Linked DNA regions of Homo sapiens: region 1 is linked to region 2. Evidence: fine-mapped expression QTL. A gene starts in region 2. The other region holds a variant in brackets. All regions are shown on one strand. Distances are between the middles of the regions. Region 1 overlaps PIK3C2B (phosphatidylinositol-4-phosphate 3-kinase catalytic subunit type 2 beta). Region 2 holds the start of PIK3C2B (phosphatidylinositol-4-phosphate 3-kinase catalytic subunit type 2 beta).

The links.
Region 1: its variant is fine-mapped to the expression of PIK3C2B in whole blood (TOPMed, PIP above 0.99).

What each region holds. Positions count from the first base shown.
Region 1 is chr1:204,451,767-204,467,287 of GRCh38, forward strand. PIK3C2B (phosphatidylinositol-4-phosphate 3-kinase catalytic subunit type 2 beta) reads right to left here. Exons shown (of 33, transcript NM_001377334.1): 3 at 13,453-13,553; 4 at 12,684-12,838; 5 at 12,246-12,366; 6 at 8,784-8,895; 7 at 8,558-8,637; 8 at 8,112-8,175; 9 at 5,962-6,108; 10 at 5,271-5,304; 11 at 4,090-4,285; 12 at 2,903-3,025. Among named protein-coding and RNA genes, the nearest start is that of PIK3C2B, 35 kb to the right of the region's middle. RefSeq lists enhancers at 1,362-1,471, 3,064-4,041, 5,549-6,050, 6,051-6,550 and silencers at 5,421-5,621, 10,435-10,729. The variant G/A (reference allele first, on the strand shown) is at 4,932.
Region 2 is chr1:204,488,708-204,504,228 of GRCh38, forward strand. PIK3C2B (phosphatidylinositol-4-phosphate 3-kinase catalytic subunit type 2 beta) reads right to left here and starts at 6,098. Exons shown (of 33, transcript NM_001377334.1): 1 at 5,649-6,098. It overlaps LOC124904584 (translation initiation factor IF-2), which reads left to right and starts at 3,044. Exons shown (of 2, transcript XM_047439554.1): 1 at 3,044-3,054; 2 at 5,469-7,025. The coding sequence starts at 3,044. The coding sequence ends at 6,489. RefSeq lists silencers at 4,139-4,218, 5,778-6,247 and enhancers at 5,288-5,477, 5,548-5,677.

The DNA of each region.
Region 1 (15,521 bases), 37 kb before region 2:
TTTTCATGCGCACGTATCCCCATGTATCAGCCAGTCTGTCAGTCACTTGGAACAGAGAAACCAAAACCAAGAGGGCTCCCCAGCTAAGAAGCCTGTGCCAAGTACTTTATTTACAGTGTCCTAACTGCTCCTCAAACAATCCTGTAGGGTAGGCCCTATTATCGCTACCATTCTAGGTTGAAAGACCTGCCCCAGGCTGCAACTACAGTAGGAAGGAGAGAATGACTGGCCCAAAGACTGTCCTCTGAACGCTGGCACGCCTTCCCCCAAATGTCCTGGTCTTGACCATGAAGGGCCAAGAAGTCTCATTCGGGGCTTCTGGATGGACAGTGCAAGATAGTGCCCTTCACAAGGCGCTAGGCAGGGGACTGCCCCTTTAAAATTCAAGGTGGGGATCTCAGGGAACAAAATGAAACTCATGGGGCAGGCTGGGCTGCCTCTCTACCTCTGATACTGTATGAGTAAAGGGTTTAAGGCCAATTTTTTAAAGTTCCTCCTGGGCCAGAACACTGTGCAGCACCCTTTTTTTTTTTTTTTTTTTTTTTTTGAGACAGGGTCTCGCTCTGTTGCCGAGGCTGGATACTCACTGCAGCCTTGACCTCCCAGGCTCAAGTGATTCTCCCACCTCAGCCTCCTAAGTAGCTGGAACCACAGGTGTATGCCACCACACTTGGCTAATTTTTTGTATTTTTTGTAGAGATTGGGTCTCCCTTGTTGCCCAGGCTGGCACCCCTTCTCTTGACAGCAGCAGTAATTGTGACCAAAAAATCCCAAGGGAATGGTGGAACTCAAGGGCCATTTAATGCAGCTATCCTCTGCCTGCAAGGAGTTTCTCCTGTCCTGGCAGTTGTTTGCTTGAGGACCTTTAATGCACACCCCATGTCCTTTTTTTTTTTTTTTTTTTTTAAGATAGGGTCTCACTCTGTTGCCCAGGCTATAGTGCAGTGGTGTGATCATGGCTCACTGCAGCCTCGACCTCCCAGGCTCAAGTGACTCTCCCACCTCAGCCTCTTAAGTAGCTAGGACTACAGATGCACGCCACCACACTCAGCTCATTTAAAATAATTTTTTAGTAGAGATAAGGCCTCTTTGTGTTGCCCAGGCTGGTCTCAAATTCCTGATCTCAAGTGATTATCCCGCCTTGTCCTCCCAAAGTACGGTGAGACTACAGGTGTGAGCCATCGTGCCCAGCCATATACACCTTTATTGCTCTAAGAATTACCTAAGTGTGAAGGGCATGAGAAAGGGTCCATTTTCCCAGTTGTCCATCTGTAAAAGGACCCACCTCTTCCAGCATCTCCAGATTCTTCATCTACCTATTTTGCATCCTCGGCCTCCCCAGGACCCTCCTCAGTCTCTTTAATCTGTGCTACAAATACTTAGCTTGCAGTGCTGCTCTGCAAATGAGGACTCTAATATAGTCAGTGTGGGGAAGCAAAGCCGGGGGCAGCAAACAGGGGATTTTCTGACTGACTGGAAGGAAGGTAGAGCATAGCACAGATGAAGCACAGGGCAGGAAAACCCCTGCGGTGCCCCCATTCAAGCAAGGCACCCTCTCCTCCGTTTCCTTCCTGCTTTGCTTGGCTGACGCCTACCTTCCCGACACCAAATTATTGTTTACATGTGGTGATTAATATTACCTTGTGCTTTTGGTTTCATATTTATATTTATAACCCACCTATCTCATCTCGACGCCATAACTGCCTCTGAGTGAAACCAATGTCCCCATTTCTCAGTTTGAAAAAATGAGGCACAGAAAGAATAGAGAGAAAGTAGTATTCGAGACAGAGCTAGAAATAGAGGCTCACTCCTGGGAATCCAAGCTCAATATTCTTTCTCTAGACAACCCTCCCTTCTCTATATATAAAGGGAAAAGCACAGTCTCCTCTCCATAGTCTACAGGAACTGAGGGAAGAAGGGAGAGGATGAGAAGCCCTCCAACTAGTTAAACTCTTTAAGGGAGACAAGATCAAAAAATAAAGTATTATTAAAATTAACAACTAACATTTAATTTTTTTTTTTTTGAGACAGAATTTCGCTCTTGTTGCCCAGGCTGGAGTGCAATGGCACGATCTCAGCTCACTACAACCTCCACCTCCCGGGTTCAAGCGATTCTCCTGCCTCAGCCTCCCTAGTAGCTGGGATTACAGGCATGCGCCACCATGCCCGGCTATTTTGTATTTTTTTTAGTAGAGACGAGGTTTCTCCATGTTGGTCAGGCTGGTCTTGAACTCCCTGCCTCAGGTGATCCGCCCGCCTCGGCCTCCCAAAGCGCTGGGATTACAAGCGTAAGCCACCGCGCCTGGTCAACAACTAAAATTTATATGTTTTTTATGGTTTACAAAGAGCCTTTATAGATACTTCTCATTGGATCCTCATGACAACTTGAGAAGTGGTAATTATACTTGGCTCCTTTAAGAGTCAGGGAAGTGGAGGCCAGGCGTGGTGGCTCACGCCTGTAATCCCAGCACTCTGGGAGGCCGAGGCGGGCAGATCACGAGGTCAGGAGATCGAGACTATCCTAGCTAACACATGGAAACCCCATCTCTGCTAAAAATACAAAAAATTAGCTGGGCGTGGTGGCGGGCGCCTGTAGTCCCAGCTACTCGGGAGGCTGAGACAGAAGAATGGCGTGAACCCAGGAGGCAGAGCTTGCAGTGAGCCGAGATCGCACCACTGCACTCCAGCTTGGGCAACAAAGCGAGGCTGCCTCTCAAAAAAAAAAAAAAAAAAAGAGTCAGGGAAGTGGAGACTCAAGAGGTTGAATGACTTGTCCAGTTAGGGTTAACAAGGAGCCTGGTTTTATCATTAGTCCTGGACTAGTTATCTGGCCCCAGGGATATTTCAGAGGCTGAGCAGGTCTACAGTGGCCTGGGCACTGAAGCCTGGGGGAAGGGCTTACTGCTGGTCCCAGACGATGAGGTGGAAGAGGTACTTGGAGAAGTGAGCTCTTCGGGTCTGCAGGGGGCTGCACAGCTCCTTGCCGCCATGGCTGAGGGAGCAGGAGAGGTAGAAATCTTCATAGCTATAAAAGAAAGGGAGCAGGTCAGGACACCCAGCTCCCAAAACCAATCACCCAAACCTATGCGTCCCTCTAAGGCCAAAATCCATTTCCCCTGGTAAAACTCTCAGTCTCTGAGGGCTGTAACACAGGATCTCCGGATAGGACAGCCAAACTGGATGTAAGGAAATGTGCTCAGGCCAAAGCAACTCAATCTAGATTCCTCTGCTCGGTTTTAGGCTCCATTCTGAGCCTTGTTGTTTTTCTTCCTTTAATGGGAACTGGCCACCCAGCCTCTTTATAGAAAGCTCCAGCCCATGGAGCGTCTGTGTGTGCGTGCGTGTGTGCGCGTGCACGTGCATGCGCAAGTGAGAAGGGTGGGGGAGGAAGACGACATATGCCGACATGAATGCCAACACACGGGGGTCCCTGTGGCTCATGACAGGTGCCTGACAGAAGAGGTCAGAGAAGGCCCCGGTTTCCCAGGCTGCCTCCTTTGTTCTCTGCCAATCGCCCAGAGGAATACATTAAGTAAGGAACAAAGAGAGAAGGGGAAGGGGGTTGGGGAAAGGGGACCGGCAGGGGCGGGGTAGGGCCCAGTGCCTATTCCCTCAGGCCTTGGATGCTGGGGACCCAACAGAGGCGCTGAGGATTTTACCAAAAGAACATCCTCCTCCACCCACCCCTGCAGGCCTAGAGAACCCCAGACAAAGGGTCAATCCCACCTCCCCACCCCCTCCCACTGGCCAGGGAGCGTGCACTCTATCTGGGAATCGGCCATCTGTTGCCATGTCTCCTTCCACTGGTCTTGGATCTGGAGGGGGCAGGGATGCAGAGGCAGCCAGCACCAAGAGGGAATAACAGGATCTTCTTCATCTCCTAAGGGACCTCCTCTCTCCTCTAGGATGTCCCCAGCCCAAGTCCTCCTCAGGCACTTGGCTCACCCCCGCAGCCCCATTGCACCACAATGTCACACAATGCCACACATCCTAAGACTTAGGACAGTGGTATTACATGCAGATAGGAAAAAGCCCTGGTGGAGGTCAAACTCAGCTTGCTCCCTAGCGGCTACTCAGCCCTGGGCTCACCTGGTAGCCCAGATGATGGGGATGCGGTGGGTGGCATAGACAGTGAAGGCCAGGGACCTGGCGAAATGGCAGGCCTCCTGGACCAGGTCATGCTTGCGGCTCCCGGGCACTGCCGTCTGGAAGTCTGCGTTGAATGTGTTGCAGTACAGCTCCACCAGGTCCAAGATGGCAGCGGTCAGGGCTTCCACGACCTTCTCTGGGAAGGGAAGGGGTCAGAAGGGAAAGTCATGAGGCCTCCACAAGCCCTACCTTGTTGCCATGGCATTGGCTAGAATGGGATGGCCTAAGACAGTGGTCCCCAAATGCTAGTCAGTCTCTAATAGCTGTGACAAAGTTCACCCATCTGCGGTAAAATGAGAAAAAAGCAGAAGCATGTCATGAGCTTTTCATAAAATGACAGTTATACAATGTTAAACATAATCCTTATTTTTACGTATTGCTACTTAGCATTAAAATGTCCTTTCTTTTAGGAAACAGTGTTAATAATTATTGTCAGTTGCTTCAAAAAAGCAAAAGTCAAAAAAGTTTGGCCAAGTAAAAGGCTGCCAATTCTCTCTTGGTCCCCCAAATACTTTGGGGGACATTTTACTGGTCTATGAAATCCAAAAGACTGGGAATCACCATAAGAATCCCAGGGATGCCAAAACAAAAAACAAAACCAAAACAAAGGAATCCCAGGGATATAGGTCAGTCTTAGGGCAAAGTTCAGCTTGAAGGGCACAACAGGGGAATCCTAGAAAAATCGTAGGGAAAATTCTTTCTCATCCTCTCCCAAGGCCCACTCTAAATCGGAAAGGTAGCAAGTGTGAGCTGTTGGGAGAATAATCACAATCTACCCAAGT[G/A]GGAGGCTTCCCATCTGGATCACAGGGCTAGTGCTGCCCCACCACCCCACTCCCACACTTCTACCCCCTCATCATCATCTCCCAGGGACACCAGGAGGAATGACTAGGAAAAATAATAAGAAAACACTTTGTGGAAAGAAATGTGCTCTCCAGCTGTATCCACACCTCATATAGGAACACACACACACACACACACACACACACACACACCCACACACACACACACACCAGCCGAACTCCGACACATAAATCAAGGGGCCCAGGCAGAAAAAGGAATCGGGGCAGAGACTGCAGTTTTCGGCAGCCCGACTGGATGAAGATGGAGAGCAGTTCCCTTACCTCGGTTTTCCCTCACAGCCAAGACACTGGGATCCTGTTGGGAAAAAGAAGAGGGAGGGGAGCTTCAGGGCCATAGCCTTTTTCGTCACAGCTGGAAGAAGGGCTTTTCACAGCTGCGCTCATCTGGACCAGAATGGGCTGAAATGTGAGTAGCTGAGAATCCCCAGAGAGGAGAGAGTAATGGTTTGTACCAGATCTGTATGATGGACAGAGTGAGCTGACGGAGGATAGCAATCATCGGGTCCACCCTTCTGAGATATCCCAACCCTCAGGCTACTCGGCTGCAGATCACAGTGCCTATGGTGCTGGCCCTGTCTGCAGAGCACACAGCCCCTGCTGGAGTCCTGGAGCCCCTGGCTCTAGAGAGATTTTCCTCCTGGTTTGTTTTTGCACCCTGATGGATATGCAGACTGTCAGGCAATGCCTTGGTGACTGTGAATAAAGCCTTTACTGGCCTGGGCTCTCAACAAGCAGTCCCAGGTAGCTCTCCCTCAACCTCAGGAAGAGGAGACACACTTGGCATCCATTTCTGAAGAGCTCTTGCGGTTGAATTCCTTAAACATAAAAGATGGAGGTGGAGAGAAGCCCCTTTTTAGTGAGTGAACACCTACACACTCTAGCAACAGGCAACTCAGTTACCTGACAGTATCCCTCTCTTCCTTTCCCCTGCTAGCACCCTGGGCCCCTTTACCTTCTGAATTTTAGGCTGCATGCGGGAGGGGCAGGGGGGCAGCTGGTTGAGAGCACTGGTGATCTCAGGGGTTTCCACGGCGGCCAGGGCGTTGCAGATGGCCTTGACGGACTGGACCACCCTGTCAGCCTTCAGTGGGAAGTCTCCCTGTGGGAGGTGGCACAGTGAGGCTGGCAGGCTCTGCTCTCATGCTCTTGGTCTCCAACCCCTCCCCACCCCAGTCTTTAAAGGAAAGGGTTGGGAAGAGTAGAGAGATTCATGATCCTCAGGGGTAAATGTGCAATACATTTTATTTTCAAATATTCATCATCAGCAAATAATCTCTCCCACTGAATTCAATGGGCCATGCCCACATGCCCCAATTCTTTCAGCCGTTCCCCTTGAAGCTCCTCCTATCTCTAGCCTCTCTCTATAGTTAGTCTACTTATACTATACACATATATACAGGGTCTCTCCCAGAGACCTGTAGAATTTCCAGACAGATCTCATCTCATTTCTACAGACATGCCACAGCCATAACCTCCCCTCTGGAATTATGCTCCTGGAATTCCCTCACCTGTCCAGCTCTGATTACCTATGTACATTTAAATCACAGAGCAGCTAAAATTCTACCTCCTGCATAAAGCCCTCCCTGGCCAATCCCCTTCCTCTAGCATCCTCCAGGAGCCCTTAATTAATTTATTACCATCCTGTTCTGTCTACTAATAGCTTTGTGTTACTATTCAATTTTTCTAACAAGAACACAAGCTCCCCAAAGGCTATGACAATTTTTTTTTTTTTTTTTGAGACGGAGTCTTGCTCTGTCACCCAGGCTAGAGTGCAATGGCGCGATCTCGGCTCACTGCAACCTCTGCCTCCCGGGTTCAAGCAATTCTCTTGCTTCAGCCTCCTGAATAGCTGGGATTACAGGCGCCTGCAACCACACCCAGTTAATTTTTGTATTTTTAGTAGAGATGGGGCTTCACCATGTTGGCCAGGCTGGTCTCGAACTCCTGACCTCAGGTGACCCGCCCACCTCAGCCTCCCAAAGTGCTGGGATTACAGGCGTGAGCCACCGCACCTGGCCAAGGCTATGACGATTCTTACACTTCTCTACCCATCGTAGCCACTAGCAAAGGGCCAGAACAGCACAGCACAGGTGTTCAGAGAGCTTCCCCCGCATCACTGGAAATGTTCAAGCACAGGCTGCTGGAGAAGGGATTCTGGCAGTGACTAGACATAATGCTGAACCCCTCAAAAAGGAAGCGTTTATGACTACTATTAACTGGATCAATGAGACAGGGATTGGTTTTTGTTTTGTTTTTTGAGATAGGGTCTCACTCTGTCACGCAGGCTGGAGTGCAATGGTGTGATCATAGCTCACTACACAGCCCCAAACTCCTGGGCTCAAGCGATCCTCCCACCTCAGCCTCCAGAGTAGCTGGGGCTACAGGTGTGTGCCACCATACCTGGCTAACTTTTGTATTTTTTGTAGAGATGGGGTCTTGCTGTGTTGCCCAGGCTGGCCTTGAACTTTGGGGTTCAAGCAATTCTCCCACCTCAGTTTCCCAAAGGGTTAGGATTACAGGCGTGGGCCATCACACTCAGCAAGGGATTATTTTTGAAGATCACTGTCAGATTTTCTTTGGCGTTGTGACATTTAAGACAAATGTTGACTCTCATGGTTTTGAGGCTTGAGACTCCGCATGAATCCAAGTGGGGAGGGCTCTGGCCCTCCCTACATGTGAAACCTTCTACCTCCTGATGGTTTCCTACCTGCGATAACAGCAAAACAGAACCTCTCAAACTGGAGGTTTCTGACATTGCTCATAGGATGCATGCTCCAGTGTACATCAAGTGCAGCAGCTGGGGGGTGACAGCTCTAGGTTCCTTAGCTCTGGAGACATCCTATTCCAGAGAATGGGACCAGCATGCAGTTTCCGACCTGCTTCTTCTATAGAGGAGCAGAATCCCTGACTACGCACTTGCCGTTGCCCAACATCTAGTAGTCTTAGTTTGCCCATGAGCGAGGGGTTAAAAAGAAGTGCTCTGCCAACAGATTTTCAGGCTCCACCCAGACCCCTCATAGTGCTGGGTGATCCCAGGAGGACTGAGGAAGGGGAGAGGAGGAGCTTTCGGGCAGCAGGGCCAGCCCCTGGATTCGTACTCACATCAGCCAGCAGGAAGGCATCCACCTCATTGTGGTAAGTGTCGAACAGAAGACTCAGGGCCTGCCTGGGAGTTGGGGGCAGGGAAAAACCACAGGAGAGGTCATGAAAGACCCAGTGCCCTGGGAAACCCATTTTCTCCCTCCCTCTCCTCAGCTCACACTCTGATTTAAAGGAGTTCCCACTCTTTCTATATGTCCTGTGAAGACATATAGAGGGAGAGTCTTTCTATTCTGCCACTTCTCGCCTGGAGAGAATGATGGCAAAGTTCCAGAGGGAAGAAATGAAACATGCCTGGAGTGGGGATCTTCTCTGATAAGATGTGTGGGCCCCAACCCCTGACACCTGCAAGAATCCCTTAGCCCTGACAGAAAGGCAAGCAGGCACATCTGATGGGATCCCTGCACAGTTCTTGTTTGGAGCACATCCAAGATGGTGCCCACACTCACCTGCTGATGGTCTGCTTGACAGGCCTCTCTTGGAGATGGACGAGGTAGTTCAAGGTGGAGGGGCTCTGGTCATCATTCACCTGTATAAGAAGTGACCTATTCAGAGAGGGGCGGTGCCCTTATCTCAGCTCAGCACTCCTACCCCCCTCCCACCTGATGTGTTCTATATTGTATTCCCATTCCACCTCCCCAGCCCTGGGCAACCCTCCACCACCCTCACACGAACCGTCCGGGCCAGGTCACTGCGCACAACCTTCTGCTCCATCAGCTGTAGCCGAATGTCAATGTCAAACTTGCGGCAGTATTGGATGTACTCATGACTGCCCAAGGCATGCTTGCTGGTAGGGTAGAGGGACAAGACCATTAGCATCCTGGGGACTCAGTGGCAAGGGAGATACATACCTTAGCCTTGGGGAGAGACATACAGAAAGAAGGTTTAGGTAAGGGGGTAGTACCCGTGTTGTACCCTACTTTGGCTCCTAGAAAATGACACGGTAGAGCTTAGGAGAAGGAACAGAGGTCTATCTAAACAAAAGCCACCTAATATACTTAATCCTTGGCCGGTATAAATATTGACTCTCTTAGATATTTATTACCCGTGTGGTAATCACTGGTTCACTCCAGGGCTGGGAACTGTTGGAGAGAGCGGGGAAACAGAGGCACATCACAGGGAGCAGTTGCTGAAGCCCTATCTTCTGGGCCTCTGTATAGGGGACAACCAGGAAGAGACATGTTGGAGTCCACCTGTGCTCAGGCTCCAGGGTGGGAGCTCAGCGAGAGACCCCTCTTCCAATGCTACCAACTAGGGTGCTGAGGCCAAAAAAACTTGGGGCAAGCCTACCAAGCCTCCAGATCAGTGTCCCCACCCAACTTCTTTTTCTGCCTTCCATCTGTTGGCCCTGCCTGCTTGTGAATAACCTTACAAATTTCTATGACTTCTTGAAAAGTCCCAAATGCATGCCAGTCCCACCTGCTCAAGCACCCATGTGTGAGACTCCCCCTTTCAGAGAGAAGGCCTAGGAGCCCTCGGCGATCCAACCTCTTCCTCTCTCCCAAATCACACCTTCAACAGCAAGGAAACCCAAGAGGAGGGGCAGAGGGAGAACTACCTCCAGGCCAGCACTGCAGGCCTGGGCCTGGCCTCAGCAGCTGGGTAACAGAAGCCGGAAAAGGACTTCCTTCCTCAGCAGAGCTGGGAATCTAGGCCAGAAATGGAGAGGAGAGGACAGGAGCATAAGGGGGGCAGTATATGTAAAAGCTGGCGGAGGTGCAGGGCCCAGGGTCGTCTAGGTCCCATGAGGGCTCGAGTGAGGGGTTCTCCACATCCTGAGAGGACCAAATCTCCGATCTAGACCCTCTCAGATCTAAGACTGAAGTGCAGCCAAAACCTGGAGGTGGTGAGGCTGGGCTGTGGGGCTGGGCCTGGTGGGAGAGCCTGGGAGGAAGGAAGAGTGTGGTGGGGCTGGGGGAGGTGGCAGGAAACCCAACCCTCCCACGGGACTGCCTCAAGGTTCTTATCTGAGAGCAGCCTGCATCCTGAACCCACTCACCCCCTCAGTATCAGCCCCTCCTGCCAGGCAGGGGTAGAAAATCTCAGGGCTTCCTTGGGAACTAGCAGATTTCTGGAACCCCCGGAGCGTCCTTTCCACCCCCATCCCAGGCAGTTGTCATGTGTTGGGGGTCTGGGGGCTGGGCCAGGAGACAGCATTGTGCTTTTCTGTTGGGTGGGAGTGGGGCTCCTAGGCCAGGAGTCATGCACACAGGTCCCCTGGGGACTTGCTTGATCTTCTCTGTGGAAGGCCTTCCTCTCTGTGCATTCAAGTGAGAGTATGAGGGGTGTGATCTGAGGACCGCTGACCCTGTCCCACCTCACTAAGAATATTTCACCTGAGTCTTAGCAGGAAGGTAGAACTTGACAGCTCCCACTACCTCCGGACCCAGGGGCTCCAGGATTTGGGGTGCTGCAAGGGAAATGGCAGTATCTGTGCAGCCCAGAGCCCTAGGACTTCTCTCCGTGGGCTGCTCCTTCCCTGCTGGTATTTACTGATTGCTCACAGGTCATTCTCACATTTCACCCTCACTGCAGCTTACAGAGGGCCCTGAGCATCAATCAGCCTTCACAACTAGTAAGTGGCAAGTCCGAATTCAAACCTGTGTAATGGCGTCAGCAGGAGCTCCAACTTATCCACTATGTCCCCTTTTTCCCTTCTAACAGTGGCAGGCCACCTGGCACTCTCTCTGCCAGGCAACCCTGAGTCTAGGACCCCTCCTGTTCCTCTAGGGGAAAAGTGTGTACATAAGTGAGTTTAAAGGTGGGGCACATTTGAAGGGTACCCTGGAGTTGTACCATACAGAACCCTGCCTCTTTCCTTTCCCTTAGCTTCGAGATGAGGAGGCAGAGGCCAGAAAGGACCCCACAATATCCTTAAATTTGAAATAAGCCCAGATAGCTGGGCACAGTGGCTCACACCTGTAATCCCAGCACTTTGGGAGGCCAAGGCGGGCAGATCACCCGAGGTCAGGAGTTCGAGACCAGCCTGGCCAACATGGTGAAACCCAGTCTCTATTAAAAAATACAAAAATTAGCCGGGCGTGGTGGTGCTTATGCCTGTAATCCCAGCTACTCAGGAGGCTGAGGCATGAGAATCGCTTGAGCCTGGGAGACGGAGGTTGCAGTGAGCTGAGTGAGATGGCGCCACAGCACTCCAGCCTGCACGACAGAGTGAGACTCTGTCTCAAAAAAAGAAAGAAGTCCAGAAATGAATCTTCCATCCTGACTGCCAAATCTTATGCTCTAGACATAGATCAACCATCCTTGCATCTAGACCTGAATGTAAGAGAGAGAAAAAGCAAGCAGTGGCACTTATAGGGCACTCCTAAGAAGTGAGACACAGGTCTCTCCTTTCTCTATTCCCAAAACGTGCTTCCTCCAAGTGGACAGAGACTGGGGGCAGGAGCGGCTCTGAAGCCTAAGAGAGGAAAGCAGATCTTATCTGTCTGCTGTCACACAGCTGTACCATCTGAGAAGTGATAACCTTGCCCCTGCCTCTCTTCCACTGCAGCCCTCCAGAGCCCAGGGTAGTGGAAAGGGGGTTGCCTCAGCTGGTCCACATCAGACTTTCCAGGGAGGCTGCTTTCCAGAGAGGGCACTGGATGGAGAGGAGCTGGAGGCACGCCTTTGGGAGGAGGATAACTAGCTGCACGGGCCAGCTGGGGAAAAGACTTGTTGGCAGGAGAATGGGGAGAGACAGTAATTGTAATTTCTCCCCTGGGCTCCACAAGGGAACTTCTGCCCAGTCCTCATTTTGCCCCAGCCATAAAAACACCACACATAATCTAGAGCAGGAGATACAGCACTACCCATATAGTCTCCCCAAGCCCACCCCTCCCCACAAATACACACATCTCTCCATAAGCAGAATCTGCAAGCAGATATGACCTAGTCTTTGCCTAATCCCAGCTCCAAGCTCTTTCCACAGCAGACTTGGCTCAGGACGTCAGCCAACCCTGCTGGAAGACAGAGCTCCTGGGGAAAGTGCTACGTGGCCGAGAGTGTGCCCAGAAAGCAGGAGTCTTGACTGTGGGATTGGGGCGGAGCTGCCAGGCCGGTCCCAGCACCAATCCCATGAAGCCCCCTCACAATCTTACTACCAGGAAGGCAGGGGCTACCTCCCACCCATTCACTCACTTCTGCAGGAACTCCTCCAGCCCGCAGGGCTTTAGCACAAAGTCACCCACGTCCACATTCCTCAGGTCATCATGGGTGTAGCACAGGGTCTGGTAGATAAGCAAGTCTACAGTGGAGGAACCTGTGAAGGGTAAGGTAGGGGGAGCAATCATGATGGATGTCAAGGCAGATGGGTCTCAGTTTCCCCACCCTGATCCCCCTTTCCAGCTAAGTATTCTCCAGCACCATCACCAACCAGATAAAGCAGGCAAGTAGTTCAGAGTTGAGGAAAGTGACTGTACTAGAATGCTGGCCCCATAGCCAGCCCCTCACCCCCAAAGGAGCATCCTCACTGCCCTTCATCTGGGCCACAAGATGAGGTGGAAATCGAGTCAAAACACAGTCATCCCCACCCCACTTCAAGGGATGCTCACATCCTCTCCCCCCTCACTAACTTACAGTTGCAGGTGAAAGTGAGTGCCTCTTGAAGCCTGTCACACAACACAGTCACCTTCAGGTTGACCTCATCCCCGAGGTGCTCTGGGCTAGGGGTGACAGCACTCCAGACATAGCCAGTGAGGAAGTAGTCTTGGATGTCAGAGCCAGATCGAAGGCTGTACAGGAAGAAAAAAAACCCTCACTGTGCCTTTAGAAGAGAGTAGTCAAGAAGACATCTGTTGGGAACCTCATGCTCTGAGGCTCAAGAGCCCCTCTGTCCCCACTCAGCCCAGCCCTCCAAATTTGCAGGCCAGGATGGGGGCAGTGGGGTAGCAGCTCTGAGAAACCCCCTTCTTGACACTTCTCTTATAATTGCAAAATGTTTCCCACCATTGAACAGTACAAATAGTTCTAAAATGACAAAGCTTTCCATGCTAAGTTTAATGGAAAATTTTTTATGAATCCATTTCCTTTCTCTTTTAGTTCCAGATAACACTCTTATCGCCAGCTGGGGTGCATTTGCTCTTAAGGGCAACTGAGGGTCAGACTCTAGAGTGATCAGGATACTTTGACCATTCAATGGAGGTTTCATGAATTTTGCTAAAAATGTGAGACTTCTAAGATTTCAAAAACCCTGCAGACACTTGTTGTAGGAAGCATTTTCATAGCTATGAACTGAGATTTACTTATTATGGTGCTTCTTCCCTCCTAAAGAAAGTTTGGAAATGGATGGCCCCCCTCCCCATCCCCCATAGCCCTCCCAAATCCCACCCCATTCTTTAACTCTTACATATCCAGCATGTGGCAAAATGCAGCAACCTCCTCATCTCTCTCTTCTGAGACCTCAAACAACTCATGGCCATTGGCAACAGTGTGGGGCCGGGAGCCCACCTTTAAGAGAAGAGCAGACGACTCAGTGCCTTTTTCCTCGTGGTGTCCCCTCCCTATGAGGTACTCCAGACCTAAACTCAAACTCTAGATGAAAAGACTTTCTAGTCACTCGACATCCAATGAAAGGGGCACAAGAACATATGGGACATCCGGGAATACATGTATCTGCTGTCCTAGGAGACCAGGAGCCAAGTTGAAGAAGGAGGCGAAGCTCTGGCTGAGATGGACAAGAGTGTGGCCAAAGCCACTTCAGGAGGGGACAGTCTGATAAGCGTGAGGCAGCCAGTAAGGCAATCCAGTGCTGTTGGGCCTCTCCTGCAACACGGGCTTTCCGGGGGATTCTCCCAGAGGCGTGACAGGGAGCAGAGCAGACAGCTGTTTTTCCCAGCCCCTCTACTGAGGCTAGAGCAGGTGGGCGGCCCAAATGGTGCCCAGGGAAGCTTGGCCCTGGTCTAAAGCCTCAATATCCACAAGCCCCATGGACCCAAAGCAGAGAGAGACCCAGAACCCTTAGATAGAGGAGATGACTCAGACACATGTGCCTTCTGGGTAAATGCTATTTGAGGAAGAAAGCGTCAAAGCAGTGGTCTGGGCAGGGGAGGACCTGGTAGAAGCTTGGCTCCTCTGGCTTCCGAGTCAGCCGGCTCTGAACGGCCGGAATGTCAGGGAGCCTGCCTTGGCCCCACTTCCTCTCTCAAAATACGTGTGTGGTGGTAGGATTCTCAGACAAGGTCCCAAACGGTCTCCCATCCCAGAGCTGCTTTCAGTCACCCAGGAGGGTTCCTAAAGAAGCCCCTAGCAAGGCCTGTAGCCCAGCCCTAGGGAGAAGGAAGTGAGGGGGAGGGAGAGCTGGTGCATGACAGGTTTCTGCCTGAGGGGTCTGCTCAGGGCAGCCTGGGAGGCCACACCAGGGACGAGGCTTCAGCTCAGATGGAGATAAGGCCGGCATGTGGTTCCAACAGCTGTTTCTGGCGGGAGTCTAGCTCCGGCCTGTGCACATAGCAACGCCTCACATCTCTCACCCAACCTCTTGGCTACTCTCAAGTCCTCTCTGCCTCTTGGGGCAGATGACAGCAACTGAGCTCCTCATTTGAATATCCAGACTGTTTCCTCTGGTTGACCCTCTCTTGTTAGGCTTGCTCCCCTGGGTGTGCATGGGCGGCGGGGGGTGGGGGTGCACAGAGGGGAGGGCAGCAGTGGGGACAGTTGGCATGTGAGGCCCTGGCTCTGCCAAGTTCGTGCCTGTGTCCCAGTCAAAACAATAGCACCACTGTCAGCAATTAACCCACAAGAGAAAGGAGAGAGAGAGGAAGAAAAAGAGAAAGAGAGAGAGACAGTGGGGGGAGGGAAGAGAAGGCAAGAGAGGGAGAGAACAGAGTGGTCACTGAAGGCCACTCTCATGTCCTTTCTGTACCACTCACTGGCACCATAAGAAAACAAAAGCCACTTACGTTTGCCCAGCTGGCAGGCCCTGGTGGCATCACCCGATGCTGGCTGGGGGAGTCTGCCGGGCAGAGGCTGGCAGCAGGGGTATCAGGCTGGCATTTGGAGCCAGCCAGTTCCAGAGCTGGCTCCGCTGGCCTGGGATAAGGAGGTTCCCTCTGGCTGGAAGCCCGACGAAAGCGGGGCGGTGGTATAGGCCGAGGGCCCAAGGGGTCCCCCCTCCCAGCAGGCTGAGCCCCTGCAACAAGCTGAGCCGGGGAGGACCAAGGCCGCATTTCCCCACTCAGAACTGGCAAGAGCTTTTTGCTTTGTGTCCGCTTCTTCAAGGAGATTCTGGGCTGAGCTCTGTCTCAGAACTCTGATGACATGCAGGGGATGGGGAAGGGTGAGGGAGTAGGGGAGGCAGGAGAGAGAAGGAGTGACAGAGGTGACCACCTACCAGGGTGCCCTGACTCAGTGAGCAGGCCCAGCTGGGTGTGAGGAACTCAGAGCTGGGAACAGGAATCTCCCAGTCCCTATAAATAG
Region 2 (15,521 bases):
TCCTGCCCCAATTCCTACTCATTGTTCAGATCTCTGCAAACACTTAATTTCCTCCAAGAAGTCTGACCATCAAAAAGGCCCCACTGATGAGTTCACAAGGCAACCCATATTTCCCCCACTCAATGACTTAAAAGTACCTAAAGTCACTAGTAAACAATCAAGATGTTAGTCAAATTAATGAATAAATGAATGAGTTCCTTTTTAACATGATCTGATAGACTTAAACCCTTGTGATCCTATTGTCTTCCAGAAATGACTTTAAGAACCACTTGTGTCATTACTGGCTCTTGGGGAAGCTCCATCTCATTCAGGACTCGAGCCTCATGAACATTTTTTTTCTCACAGTCCCCTTCAGCATAGCACAGAAGGAACACAGGTTCTAGAGGTTTCCTGACCTAGACTCAAATTTTGGCTCCTCTCAAGTTAATTGTACAAGCTCTTTATTATTATTATTATTTTCAGAGACAGGGTCTCACTCTGTCACCCAGGCTACAGTGAAACCTGGATGCAATCAGAGTGGTGCAATTATAGCTCACTGCAGCCTCAAACTCCTGGGCTCAAAAGATCCTCCCACTTCAGCCTCCTGAGTAGCTGAGACCACAAGTGTGCGCCATCACACCCTAATTGTTTTTATTTTTATTTTTAGTAGAGACAAGGTCTTGCTATGTTGCCCAGGCTGGTCTCAAACTCCTTGGCTCAAGTGATCATCCCATGTCAGTCTCCCAAGTGCTGAGATTACAGCATAAGCCACTATTCCTGGCCCCTATCTTTTAATTTAAAAAAAAAAAAAAATCTGCCTCCTTAAAGTCTAGAGTGAAAATCTAATATCTCTGGCTACAATGTTCCTCTCCCAGGATCCCAAAACAACCCATTTGCAAACCACCTCCCTTTTCTTGGTGAGAATTAAATCCACTCTACTGGTGCTCGCAGTCACAGCAATTTCTTTCACTCTCTGGGAGACACACAGCATGGCGAGTCAGGAATGGGACAAACACTCTGCTTTCAGAAAATGAGGGCTCTTAGGGAGACGTCAATAGTTGAAGGGCTCCATCATTACTACTATCTGGGCTTTGCTTAGTTTATTACCTGAGACAAAAAGAACTCATACCTGATTCTTCTACCTGGCAAGGCAAACTGTAGTTTTTCCTCAAAATGGAATCCTTTTGGCCCTCTACTCTTCTTCCCTCATCCTTATAACTTACGGTTTGCTGCAAAGGACGCCATCTAGTATGAGAGAAAGAGAGAAAGATGTGGCTGGAGAGAATGCTTCCACTCAAGCTTCTTCCTGGTGGGCTTGGCTTAGCGAGGCTTGAGGAATGAGCCACGTGTGTGAAACAACTCTCTAATATTAGGCACCCACCTCTATGGTGGAACAGTGGCAGGAGTGACACAGTCATGATGGAAGGATAACAGTTTCCAAAGAGGCAAACAATCTTTGGCTTCTCTGAAATACTGTGAAGCCTCTGCTAGGTGAGACTTCCTACAGAGAGTTCTCAGGAAGAGGAAGGAGTGAATTGCTAAGGCTTCCTTCAGCCACAGGTCTTATTTCTGCTTCAGGACTACAGTGAACCTCTCTCTTCTTCCTTCTCTATACCCTGAGGGCCTCTGCTCCCCAAAGCACAAATGTCTTCTGATTCTTTAGTCTCCTTAACCAGGGTGATGATTTGGGGTGAGTGAATTCCATCCCAATGTCCCAGTGTTTTGGGGAAGTAAATTTCCCAAAGACAAAGCCACTAATTGGGTCGGCACGAAACTCCAAAGTGTTGCAGGATAGGTCCTTTCACGGGTCATGTTGTGATCTGCGGGGTAGGCGTTCAGTTCCAGCATTGCTACTAACTGCATGACCTTGAGAAAGTCACTTTTTCTCAGGGAAGTGATGGCCCAGGTCCTTTCCAGTTTTGATACTCTATGTGATCTTACAAAATGCAAGAACAAGCTGGGAGAGGTGGCTCATGCCCGTAATCCCAACACTTTGGGAGGCCGAGGTGGGAGGATCACTTGAGACCAGAAGTTCGAGATCAGTCTAGGCAACATAGTGAAATCCTGTCTCAACAGAAAAAGAAAAAAAAAAAAGGCAAGAATAGTCCCTCAAGTTTCATTTTATAAAACAGATGCAAAATAAAGCAGATATGAAAATACCAAAACAAGAAATCTGCCTTAATTTCCCCAGGATCCTCCAAGTCCCAAACCTTCTATTAGTGTTGCTCAGAAGGCAGCAATATGACTTGATCAGATTATCCCACATCTCTTCCTTCCTTGGAAGGTAGACATAGAAATAAAAATGCATAGAAAAGCAGATGAGGCCCAGAAAAATTTATTATGCCTACATGCCCATGAGATGTCCCAGGCTGGTGACGTCTCATGGGCATTCAAGGAATCCATTAAGAATGAATTCTGAGGCTGGACATGGTGACTCACACCTGTAATCCTGGCCCTTTGGGAGGCTGAGGCAGGTGGATCACCTGAGGTCAGGAGTTCGAGACCAGCCTGGCCAACATGGTGAAACCCTGTCTCTACTAAAAATACAAAAAATTAGCCAGGCATGGTGGCACACGCCTATAATCCCAGCTACTCGGGAGGCTGAAGCACAAGAATCCCTTGAACCTGGGAGACGGAGGTTGCAGGGAGCTGAGATGACACCACTGCACTCCAGTCTGGGTGACAGGGTGAGACTCTGTCTCAAAAAAAAAAAATGAATTCTGAGGCTGGACATAGTGGCTCATGCCTATAATCCTAACCCTTTGGGAGGCCAAGGCAGGAGGTTCCTTTGAGGCCAGGAGTTTGAGACCAGCCTGGGCAACATACTGAGACCCCATCTCTACAAAAACTTAAAAAATTAGCCACATGTAGTGGTGCATGCCTATAGTCCAAGCTACTCAGGGTGGGGACTGAGGTCGAAGGATCACTTGAGCCCACTGCACTCCAGCCTAGGCAACAGGGAGAGACCCTGTCTCAAGAACAAACAAAAAGAATGAACTCCACAATTTTGCTGTCCCTTTCTGTTCTCCCAAGACCCAATATCTCTCTGAGTAGCACTGAGGCTATGAACACAGGGTAAGGAGTGAGACTGCTTGCTTCAAATCCCACCTCTATCATTTACTAGCTGGCTGACATCAGTGAGTGTTAGTGATTACATTACTTGCCAGCTCAGCATTATCCTCTCTATAGGCAGTAGCCAGCCTTTGGAAGGTGTTTATCCCTCCTCAATTCCTACAAATATCATGAGGCATCCTTTCCTTCTCTCCCAGTTCCCATCCTGCCAACACTATTTAAAGAAAAATACCCAAGGAATACAGCAGTTACCTTGGTATTGTCACACTACTCTTTCCTTAGCAAGAAAGAAAAGGTCCCAAAACATTCCCTACTCCATGTGGCCCTCAGATCCCACCCTATCCCCATCCCTCACAGATCTCCCTCCCTTATGTGGGAGGCTAAACCCAGTAAGAATAATCATTTGTAAAGTACTCTGTAGTTTTCAGGGTACTTTTGCACACATGATTCTGTTTAGTTCTTGGTAAGCAGCATTTCATTATTAATCCTGTGAGCCATGGCTACTCCCCCACCTCCATTTTACAAATATACAAACTAAATCTTAGGTCCACAAATTGTCTGTGCTCACATAGCTAAAAAGAAAGTCACACCAAGACACTGTTTTCTCTACTACTTCACATTATGATGTCCAAGTTCACATCCTGGGAACATGAGGAGCCTGAACCTTATAGCTAGTTACAAGCCCCTAAAAGGAACAGAGACCTCATTTTTCTACCCACTGGTCCAGGCCAGGGCCATCCCAGCTGAAGCACCACAGACATGATATAGATGCAAAGCACCAGGCACAGGAGGAGTGGGGACACCACCAAGCGGGGACCAAAGGCCCACGAGGGTATAGAGTATCTGCCAGAGCATACTAGGTCATGACAAAGACCAAAGGCATTCCAGACCACCAAGGAAGTCCAAAGGAGCTCCCCCAGAAACAGCCCAAGTCCCCAGATAAACTGACCCTTCCTCACCCAGCACACCCCCTTGGCCCTTTCTCACTCATGCTTCCAGTGGAGAAGGAAATAGACAAGCAGCCGGGTCTGAGAGCTTGATCAGATTCAGCCATACACACTCAGCAGTAAGCTCAGAGCCATGGCAATCAAACCTCAGGCTCACCCAAAGGCCAAAGGAGAAGCAGCCACAGCCTGGGTCTAGGGCTCCAGCTCAGAGCCACCATCTCTTCAGATGCTGGCTGCCAAGCAGAGCTATAAAATGTGCCTCGACTTAATTTTTCCATGGACACAACCTCAAGATGGGCCAGCCAGACTCTGGAGGAGCTGGGATTCCAAAGTCTCACTGCCTGTCTGCTCTGGGATCGGCAGCTGGAGTTGGGGAGAGGGAAGTATTTGGGGGTCGGCATTGCCACCTCCTGGGCCATTTCTCTTCCTAATATCTTCCCAAAGCCTGATGCAGCAACAGAGTAAGTTTTCATTCAGCACTGATTCAGGGTTGGAATTTAGTACAAATTGCTTACATCTGCCTGGCCATATCCCAAATAGGTAGTTTAGAGCAAGGAGGAGGGGCAGCATTGGCCCACTTCTTGGAGCCCGGGTAGCCGCCTGCTAAAGAATCTGGTGCCATGCTGGGACCAGCCAGCCCAGGGTACAAAACTCTCCAACAGAGTTGAGAAAAAACAGCCCAAGAGAGCTGCCAGAGACAATACAGCGATTCCATCCCAGGCATGATTGGAAGGGCTGGGGCAGGGAAGCTACGAAGACCCCAGAAGCGGGTGGAGAGGAGAAAAGGCAGGCCTGAAGGAGCAAGAGCAATGGCAGAAAACACACACACACACACACACACACACACACTTCAACATCAGCCAACTAGGGTGTGTGCACTAACCTCATACATTTGGTAACCTCTTCCCACAATCCAGAAGCCTGCCAAGCCCCTGGGCTCCCCACCCTACTCCACCCCACACCAGCTTGGCAGCCTTGCTTGTGCTTCCTGCTGCGATTGCTCCTCCAACATCAAAGTCACCGCTGTCGGGAGCTGAAAATGAGGGACAAGTATAGGCCAGGAGAGCAGCGCCTTCTCCCAGCACCGGCGAACTCAGGCCTGAGGGTCCCTCTCCCTCTTTCAAGCTTTCAGTCTCCTTTTGCTGCAGTATCCTTATAAGGGAGAATCCAATTCTACCCTCCGCCCGACTAAGAAACGTACACATTCCCCAGGCTAGATGCCGACTTCTCACCCAGTCCACAGAAGGCACTAACCCCATCACAGGACAGGTTTTGCTTTTTTTATTTCTTATCTTAAATAAACAAACCCCAAAGCCATTGACTGGTTCAGATCGCCCTGCAGCTGGGAGCCAGGAAGTGTGTTTAGCGAGAAGGGGGTGGGGACGCGGGTGCCTGGAGCCCCAGAGGCCCTGAAGCTGCTGGAGTGGAGTGGAGTGGGGTGAGGGGCAACCTGCTCTGCCCGGCGGGCAGGAGCTCAGGCTCCCACGGCGTCCGCCGCTCAGCCCGCCGCCAGGAACCCTCGGCTGCTTCCATTGTTGCACCTCCGCTGTTGCCATGTTGGAGGGAGAGCCCCCTGACCTCGGCTGCCTCCACTCTGGGGGCACTTTACAGACGCTGGGGCCGATGCAACCCGCAGGATGCGTGTCCTACCTGCGCTAGCTGCTGGCTCTGCTGCAACATCCGACGTGTCTTGTGCCTGGCGACGTGGGCTGCTCGCTCCGCGCCTCCCGGGCTCGCTCTGCGGCTCCAGGCGCCTCTTGCACCAGCGCGAGAGGAGCTGGCCGGCCGCACGCCGCCTGCTCCCGGGCCGCTCCCCTCTCCAGGCTCCGCACAGACCCTAGGCTCCAAGGGGCAGAGGGAGAGGCAGCAAAGGGCGCAAGGACCAGCTTGTGGGGGTGGGGAGGGGTGCTCTCCGCCGAGAGCGTGCGCGAGCTCGCAGAGTCAGGCCACCCCGGGTGAGACAATAGCGGCAGCAGCGGGCGAGAGAGGGGAAGCCATCTCCCGGACACCCGGCGCACTGCACGGCGACGCGACGCTCGGCCAGACCCTGCCTGGACAGGCAGGCACCCGGCCGCCGGCTCCAGCCGCAGCGCCGAATCCGCCGCGAGCCGGAGGGCGGGGCGGCTGCTGGAACCCGGGCCGCCCTTCGCCTCTCCCCTCCCCTTCCCCCTCCTCTTCTCTTCTCCTCTCCTCCTCTCCCCTCCGACTCCCGCCCCACTTGCCATTGCGTGGGGGAAGAGAAACGCGCTGGCGTCAAGTTGTGCTCTGCAACCCAAGAGCCAGGATTTCCACTCCCCACTTGGGTGAGGGTTTTTGCGGATGGTCGTTAGTTTCCCCTGCTGGAACCCCTTGGCTTTGGGTCAGAGGAAAGCTCAATCATTCTGCTAGAAATGACGGTGCTGAGGTCCAGTTATCCGTTTCAGGAATTTCTACCATAATTACGGTAGCGATGTTCGGGGGATCCCCTACCTTGAGGGTTAGGTTGGGGTAGAGAGAGGCTGTCTCCGGGCTTTACACGCTCAGTGTCATTCGTCTTTCTGTCTCCTTCCTTCCTCCCTTTCTGGAAGGGGAGTCTCGTTTGTTTTTGTATTCGCCCAGGTGGATCTTCCGAGCTGCGATCCAGGAAACAGCAGTCAACCTAAGTAGGGAGGGGAGATAGAGGATCCTCCAACCCAACTAGGGTAGTGAGAAAAAAAAGTAAAAAAAAAAAACCTTTCATACAATATGTTATATTTAAATTTTCTACTCTAAATACCTTTCTTCCAGCAGTGGTCTCTGGAAGAATTTTCCTAAAGGCTCCACCCAAAAGAAACCATGAGTTGGCCAGCTCCTCGTTTGCATTTGGTTTGCATAGTACCAACGATCACTAATCTCAAAGTATATTTTCCTAAAAACGTGAATCGTGTTTTCCTCCACTGCCCTCATTTCTTCTTTCTTTCTCGACAGACTATGAAGATTAACACCTGGTCCTCAGCCTCTCAAGTAAAACCATGATTAAATAAATTTGTTATGCTTTTCTCTGGTTAACTTGTCTTTTGTTATAGAAGTGTCGGCTGTGACTCTTATGATGGGGAGGAAAGGGATCACTCCCCTTTCTGATCCTACAGTGCCTTCTGTACCCAATGCTTGTGACTTTCAGTATTCCACTTCACCCTCTGAATATCAAGAATAGCGTCCTCACCTATCACGCTTTCGTAATGATCAAAGGAGAGAATGTAGGTGAAACATCTTGATAATTAACTGAAGGCAGCTTGGTCTGCACATATGTCATAATGTATATGATGCTACTCCTGATCTCAGGAGCCACAGGGGTTAAAAAACGTGTCCGTGCACTTCTTCACCATACAAATATTTATGACAGCTTACTCTGTGTCTGTCATCAGGTCAAGCTCAGGAGCCTGAGAGAACAGAGTGTTACAGGGGCCACTGGTGGTTCTTTTTTTTTTTTTTTTTTTTGAGACGGAGTCTTGCTCTGTCGCCCAGGCTGGAGTGCAGTGGCGTGATCTCGGCTCGCTGCAAGCTCTGCCTCCCGGGTTCACGCCATTCTTCTGGCCCAGCCTCCGGAGTAGCTGGGACTACAGGCGCCCGCCACTATGCCCAGCTAATTTTTTCTTTTTTTTTTTTTTTTTTTTTGTATTTTTAGTAGAGACAGGGTTTCACCGTGTTAGCCAGGATGGTCTCGATCTCCTGACCTTGTGTTCCACCCACCTCGGCCTCCCAAAGTGCTGGGATTACAGGCGTGAGCCACCGCGCCCGGCGACCACTGGTGGTTCTATGCTGCTGGGGTGAAAAGTCTGAAGGAAAGAACTAACAGGAAGTAGGCATAGGTAGCTGAGTGGAGGATCAGATCACAGGCTTTATCATGCATTTTGGTAAGGAAAAAATTGAATAAAGAGAAACCAGGGCATGCCAAAAAGTTTAGGTGCTGTAGGTGACAGAGAACCTGCTGTGCACAAATGGAACTGGGAAGTAGTGTGACCAGAAAAAGACTTCCTGGCATATTATAGAGAAGGATTTGGAAGATGCACTGCATGTCTTCCGTTTGCCCCTCCAGATCTTCCTGGCCCTCTGGCTTCCTAGACTGGGTTGGCCAATGGGGGCCATGGCTGAAGATTGAATAAGGAGGGAGGTCAGGGGAAACTGGATATTTATTCTTCAGGATTCCTCTCTTTGGGGTCACAGTGCGCTGGCTGCCACCCTCAACCAAAGATCACAGCTTCCACGGGTGGTTCTCTCTCCCCTCCCTCTCTCTTTTGTTTTTCTTTTTTTCTTTTTCTTGAGACCGAGTCTCACTCTATTGCCCAGGCTGGAGTGCAGTGGCTTACTGCAACCTCTGCCTCCCGGGTGCAAGCGATTCTCCTGCCTCAGCCTCCTGAGTAGCTGGGACTACAGGCGCATGCCACCATGCCCGGCCAAATTTTTTTTGTATTTTTAGTAGAGACAGGGTTTCACTTTGTTAGCCAGGATGGTCTCAATCTCCTGACCTCATGATCCACCCTCCTCAGCCTCCCAAAGTGCTGGGATTACAGGCGTGAGCCACAGTGCCAGCCCCCTCCCTCTCTCTTGATTCAGGTAATCACTCCCCTCCTTTGACTTTTCGGGCCTGGGGGTGGAAACATTGATTTGCTACTGGCCCTAGTAGATTGTACACTATTTCTTGTGGTTTTCCTGTACTCCGCCGACCCTTTATAAATTGTCCCCTTATTTTTTAACCTCTCCTCAAATTACCCCTCAAGTGCAGTGTGCCATTTGCTTTCTGCCAGGACCTAGTAACACAAGTCAGGAGTGCAGCCTGGGAGCTCAACAGAGAAACCATGGCTACGTTCCAGGTGGGAAATCAGGGAATCTCAAAACTGTGCCAGAGCTGTGGCAGTGGGGATGAAAAAAACGGAGCAGATACAAAAGATACTTATAAAGAGAAATCAATAGTATTTGATAAATATATAAAATGTAGGAAATTAGGGAAGAGGAGGACTCTGGAATTACTCCCCATTTGAAGCCTTAGAAATTGTTGGCAGGTGGTACCATTCCCTAAGTTAGGGACAATTAGAAAGACAGGGCCCAGGTGTTGGCAGAGGGATCTTGAGCTTAATTTTGAACATGTTGGGTTTGAGGTATCTGTGGAATGTCTAGATGGGGATGTCTAGTAGACAGCAAACTTATGAAACTAAACTCATATTGGGGTGTGAACAAGTGATAGCAGCTTTGGATTCTGTAGGTTATGGGTAGTCAGTGAAGTTATAAGCCTGTATGAGGTCGTCCAGATGGGCATAAGGAGGAAAGAAGAAACAACCAGAGAGGTAAGAGAAAAACTGGAGGCCACAGAGTGTCAGAAACTAGGGTGGGAGAATCTCAGAAGAGAATGACTGGATAACCAGTGCAGCAGGAACCTCCAGGAGGGTAGGCTAGAAAATGCCTCCAGTGGATTCTAGGCCTAATTCATTCCCTGATTCAAAGCTGGTGCTCAATAAATTATTGGTCACTAAGTGAATGAATGAACCTGGATCTGGAATAAAAGACACATGCTTTTTCTAGAAGCTTGGCAATTTAAGACAAGGAGAAATATAAGGCAGTGGGTAGAGGGGAATGCAGGATCAAAGGGGAGACTTTTGTTTTTTCTTTTTAGGATAAGAAAGGCTTAAGCATTTTCATATGCTGAAGAGTAAGACCAAGGAGAGCGAGATCATGAATAGGAGGGAGTTGGGACCCAGGTATATGGGGTGGAGCTGCCTCTGATATCTTTGAGAGGAAGGCTGTACAAAAGCAGAGGCATCTGTAGACTGGTAAAGAGACTAGAACTTGAGACTAGATGTTGAGAGGACTAGTTGCTGCCTTGTAGTCTCTAAGCAATCTGCTGAGAGAGAAAGGCTCAAGATGAGGTTAAAGGCTTAAAGAAAGTGGTTAAGGTTGCTGGGCACGGTGGCTCACGCCTATAATCCCAGAACTTTGGGAGGCCGAGGTGGACGCATCACCTAAGGTCGGGAGTTCCAGACTAGCCTGACCAACATGGAGAAACCCCGTCTCTACTAAAGATACAAAAATAGCTGGGCGTGGTGGCGCATGCCTGTAATACCAGCTACTCGGGAAGCTAAGGCAGGAGAATCGCTTGAACCAGGGAGGCAGAGGTTGCGGTGAGCCGAGATCGCGCCATTGTACTCCAGGCTGGGCAACAAGAGTGAAACTCCATCTCAAAAAAAAAAAGTGGTTAAGGTTAAAATAGAAAGGAATAAGGAATGAGAGTGGTAGCTCCAGAGAGAGGAGAGAGAGAGAGAATTGTCAGCAGAGTTGAAGATACAGCTGGCATTGGATACTCTAATATGTTGTGGCTATGAATAAAAACATCCGAATGTTTTCATCATTTTCTTCTGCAGCACTTGGAAGCCCAGGTGTAGAACATGAGGTCAGGTTTCCAAGATAGGTACAGTAGAGGCATAAAAGGAAAAGAGGGCTCCTGACAAAAGAGGAAGTCCTCAAGGACGGAAGTGAAGCTCAGCAAAGGCTGTGAATCTTCAAGAAGCGGGAGGAAAGGGACTGAGCTACCTCTAATCTTATTCCCCTTCCAATCTTTTCTCAAGTAACCCAGCCAGGGTGATGTTTCCAAAGCAAACATCTGCTTCTCCTGCTTAAAATCAACTAACATGTAGGACATGGCATTTTTTGACTTTGGTTTTTAAACATCTGTATTCTCAGAGCCTAGAACAATGCCTGGCACTTGTGCTCACAAAATTTTTGGCAGATGAATTAATGCATGACTTTCTCTAACTCTTAAAGTCCAATCTCCTAAGGAAACTCTGAATTCTCTCACAGTCAGCCCTTGCTTTTCATTCTAGCCTCAGAGAACAAGGACTTTGTCTTGTGCATCCCTGCATCTCCCAAACTGCACCCACCACATAGTATTCAATAAATATGTATTGAATGAATAGCCTCCCACATTCCAATGTAAACTTCATACTTGGGCCTTACGAAACTCCCTACAGTTCCTAGAATGCACAATATTCTCACCTAACGGCCCTTCCACATGGTTTCCTGGAAAGGGCCTCCTACCTCCAATCCCCACCTCTACCCGCTTCCTTTTATGCAGCTGTCTCTCTACATGGTAGGCAGAATAATGGCCTCCCAAAGGAGGAAATGTCCACTTCCTAATCCCTGGAACCTATGGCTGCATTATTTTACAAGGCAAAAGGATTTTACGGATGTGATTAAGTTAAGGCCCTTGGGAGTGGAAGATTAGCCTGGATTATCCAGGTGGGCCCAATCTAATTACGTCAGTCCTTAAAAGCTGCAAACCTTTCCTAGCCGAAGTCAGGGAGAGATGTGATGACGCAAGACTGGTTGGAAAAATGCAACATTGCTGGCTTGAAAGTTGAAGCATGGAGGTCCTGAGCTGGAGGGGGTGAATGGCCTCTAGAAACTGGAAAGGTCAAAAAACAGATCCTGCCCTAGAGCCTCCAGGAAGGAACATGACCCTGCAGATACTTGATTTTAGCCCAGTGAACCCCATGTTGGGCTTTTGATCTGCAGAACTGTAGGATAATAAATTTGTGTTCCTTTAATCCACTAAATTTGTGGTCATTTGTTATAGCAGCAATAACAAACTAATACATCCTACAACAAATTCTCTGCAAAGTTTCCCTAGAGTGCCTCCTAAGAGTGTCTAGACACACCCAATAGCTACTTGGATTATAACACTGATCATGGGTGTTATATATAATTGCTTGTCCACTTTTTTCTGAATTGGGGAGGGGACAGAAGAGGAGGGCAACGGACTGTAAGCGCCTTAAAGACAAGGAATCTCCATTATTTTTACCTTTGAATTTCTAGGCCTAATTCATTGCCTCATTCAAAGCTGGTGCTCAATAAATTCTTGGTCAATAAGTGAATGGATGAAAACCTGGATCTAGTTTACAGGAAGACAGAGTGACTGAGCCAGAAAATGAAAAGCTTGAGAGTCTAAGATTTCAGTGGTGACCGGGTGTGATGGCTCATGCCTGTAACCCTGGCACTATGGGAGGCCTAGGCTGGTGGATTGCTTGAGCCCAGGGGTTCAAGACCAGCCTGGGCAATATGGCAAAACCTCATCTCTACAAAAAACACAAAAAATTAGCTGGGCATGGTGGTGTGTACCTGTACTACCAGCTACCCAGGAGGCTGAGGTGGGAGGATCACCTGAGTCCAGGAGGTCGAGGCTGCAGTGAGCCATGATGGTACAACTGCATGCCAACCTGGGCAACAGAGTTGAGGTCCTATCTTAAAAAAAAAAAAGATTTCAGTGGTAATAATAAGTAGATTACTGGTGAGGGAGCAAATGGCTGAAATCAATGGAAGGAGATGATGGTAGAATCTGTTTATCTGTGCTATATTCTCTCATAGGTCTGCTCTAGGCTAGGACTAATCTGTAATACAACTCAAAACTAATATTTTGAAAGACAGTATTTATAACAATTTTATTTTAAAATCCTTCAGTAGGCTTTCTTCAAAAATATTCAAATATCTTTGAAAGATGATTGGATGTTAGAGATGGGGTGGGGTGCTCTGTAAATATTTTATGTATAGATTGACTTCTTCAATCCTTTGACTCTTACTGGCTTTGAAATCAGTCCTACTTCTTCCCTACACCTTTTCAATGATCCATGACATTTGAGGGCTGCATTGTTTAGGGAGTATTTATTCCAGTATCTGAGCTCTTGATGCTATGTAAGATTCTTGGGCTCAGCCAGGCATGGTGGTTCATGCCTATAATTCCAACAGTTTGTGAGGCTGAAGCAGGAGGATCCCTTGAGCTAAGGGAGTATAAAAGTAGCCTGGGCAACATACCAAGACCCCATCTCTACGAAAACATTTTTAAAAAAAATTCACCAGGCATGGTGGTGCATGCCTGTAGTCCCAGCTACTCTGGAGGCAGAAGTGAGAGAATCACTTGAGCCAGGAGATTGAGGTCACAGTAAGCTATGATTGCAACACTGTCTCAAAACAAACAAACAAACAAAAACAACCTGTACTATACATCTTCTTAGTACCTTGTGATGGTGTCAGCTCCAAAGACTCTATGCACTATACTGTGGCGATAGAAGACTGGGCCCCAGAGTAGGTAGCTACGACTTGGTGTTGGTTTGGGGAACTCTGGGAAGGAAGGGTCCACAACTTTCCCCCTCTGTGCCTAGCTCACTGCTGTGGAAACAGTGGGTAATCAGATTGATGGTGATTTTTTTCCAAAGGCAGTAATTCTGATGAGAAGGAGGGTAAAAAACATCCCTTTAAAGATTATTATAGTAGGGATCAACAAAATGAAAAGGCAACATACAGAACGGGAGAAAATATTTGCAAACCATATATCTGATCAGGGATTAACATACAAAATATATAAGGAACTCATAAAACTCAATAGCAAAACAAAACAAAAACAAATAACCAGAATTTTGTTTGAATGTGCAAAGGACTTCAATCAACATTTTCCCAGAGAAGACATACAAATGACCCACAGGTATATGAAAAGGTGCTCGACATCATTAATCATCAGAGAAGTGTAAGGCAAAACCATAACGAGATATCACCTCACACCTGGTAGTGTGGCTACTCTCAAAAAGTCAAAAGATTACAAGTGATGTCGAGGGTGTGGAGAAAAGGGATCTTTGTACACTGTTGGTGGGAATGTAAACTGGTACAGCCATATGGAAAACAGTATGGAGTTTCCTTTAAAATATTAAAAATAGAACTACTGTAAGAACCAGCAATCCCACTTCTGGGAATATATCCAAAGGAAATGAAATCAGTATGTTAAAGAGAGATCTGTGCTTCCATGTTCATCGCAGCATTATTCACAATTGACAAGATGTGGAATCAGCAGAAGTATCTGTCTACAGGTGACTGGATAAAAAATATGGGGTCCGGGTGCGGTGGCTCATGCCTGTTATCCCAGCACTTTGGGAGGCCGAGGTGGGCAGATCACCTGAGGTCAGGAGTTCAAGACCAGTCTGGCCAAAATGATGATGAAACCCTGTCTCATTAAAAATACAAAAATTAGCTGGGCGTGGTGGCAGGCGCCTGTAGTCCCAGTTGCTTGGGAAGCTGAGGCAGGAAAATCACTTGAAACCAGGAGGCAGAGGATGAGGTTGCAGTGAGCTGAGACCATGCCACTGCACTCCAGCCTGGACAACAAGGGTGAAACTCCATCTAAAGAAAAAAAAAAAAGAAACAAAGAAAGAAAATGTGATACATAAGGAAATCCTGCCATTTGCGACAACATGGACAAATCTGGAGGACTTTATGCTAAGTGAAATAAGCTAGAAACAGAAAGACAAATACTATATTATTTCACTTATATGTGGAATCCAAAAAAGTTAAACTCATAGAAACAGCAGAATGATTACCATGGGGCTGGCAGGTGAGGGAAACAAATAGATCTTGATCAAACAGTACAAATTTTCAGTCGTAAGATGAATAAATTTCGGGGATCTAACATACAGTACAGTGACTATAGTTATTAATAATGTATGGTGTACTTGAAATTTGCTAAGAGTGTAATCTCAAGTGTTCTCACCACACCACACGCACACAGTTTAAAAATAGTGGGAGAAATTAAATTTAAGAACTAGGAGAATCACCAAATATATAGAATCTGTGAGTTTAGCCTGCCCTCTAGTGGGAAAATTAAGTTCAACAGTCTGCATAAAGAAGCTTCAAGAAGCACTCCAGGAAGATTTTATGCTAAAGTACAAGATGGCACTTGTGGTGTTTTTGATGCAACATAAATGAAGCAAACAGATTCATTTCATGCTATTTCGGGTGGACTTTGCAATGTTAACAAGCCGATCTTTCAATAGCTCACCATTGCCTGTAGGATAAAATCGTTTGCCTTAGCCTGATGGAAGTGTAGTCTCCAATGTGACCTTACTCCTCTGTATCTCCTTCTGCTCCAACAAGATTAAGTTATTCCCCATTCTCTAAATACACCTTGCAGTCCCCACATTCCTTCCAGATTTCCTGTTTTCCTCCCTACTGTGCCTAGCTCACTGCTGTGGAAGCAGTGGGTAATGAGTAAGCAAATTTTAGATTGATTAATCCCATTCAGTTTAATTTTAAACAGCAGGTTTTGTTATCCCGGAAGAAAGGGAGTGTGATGTAACAAAGCCTTGGGGAGGAAAAAACTTGAAGACCCCTTTATCTATTCTTGCCCTTTTAAGGAGGCCTGGATAGACACCATTTCCCTTCCCTAAAATTTAAGTGTTATAATTTATTTCCACATCTCATTCATAGAAACAGTTCTAGCAGTTTTTCCTTATCTAACACAGTGGGTGCTGAAAAAAATATGTCTAAATAAATAAATGTCTGTGTTTTGCTCATTACAATTTCTTCAGTACACCTCTAACATTGTTTAAACTGTTTTACTGTTTAACTTGTTTAAACTGTTTAAACTGAAATATGATCATGCAGTTTCCCTGCTGAAAACTCAAGGGCCCAGCCACCCTTATTTTATAAACCCTGCTTTCCTGTCCATCTTCATCTGCCGCCACTCCACTTTATGTT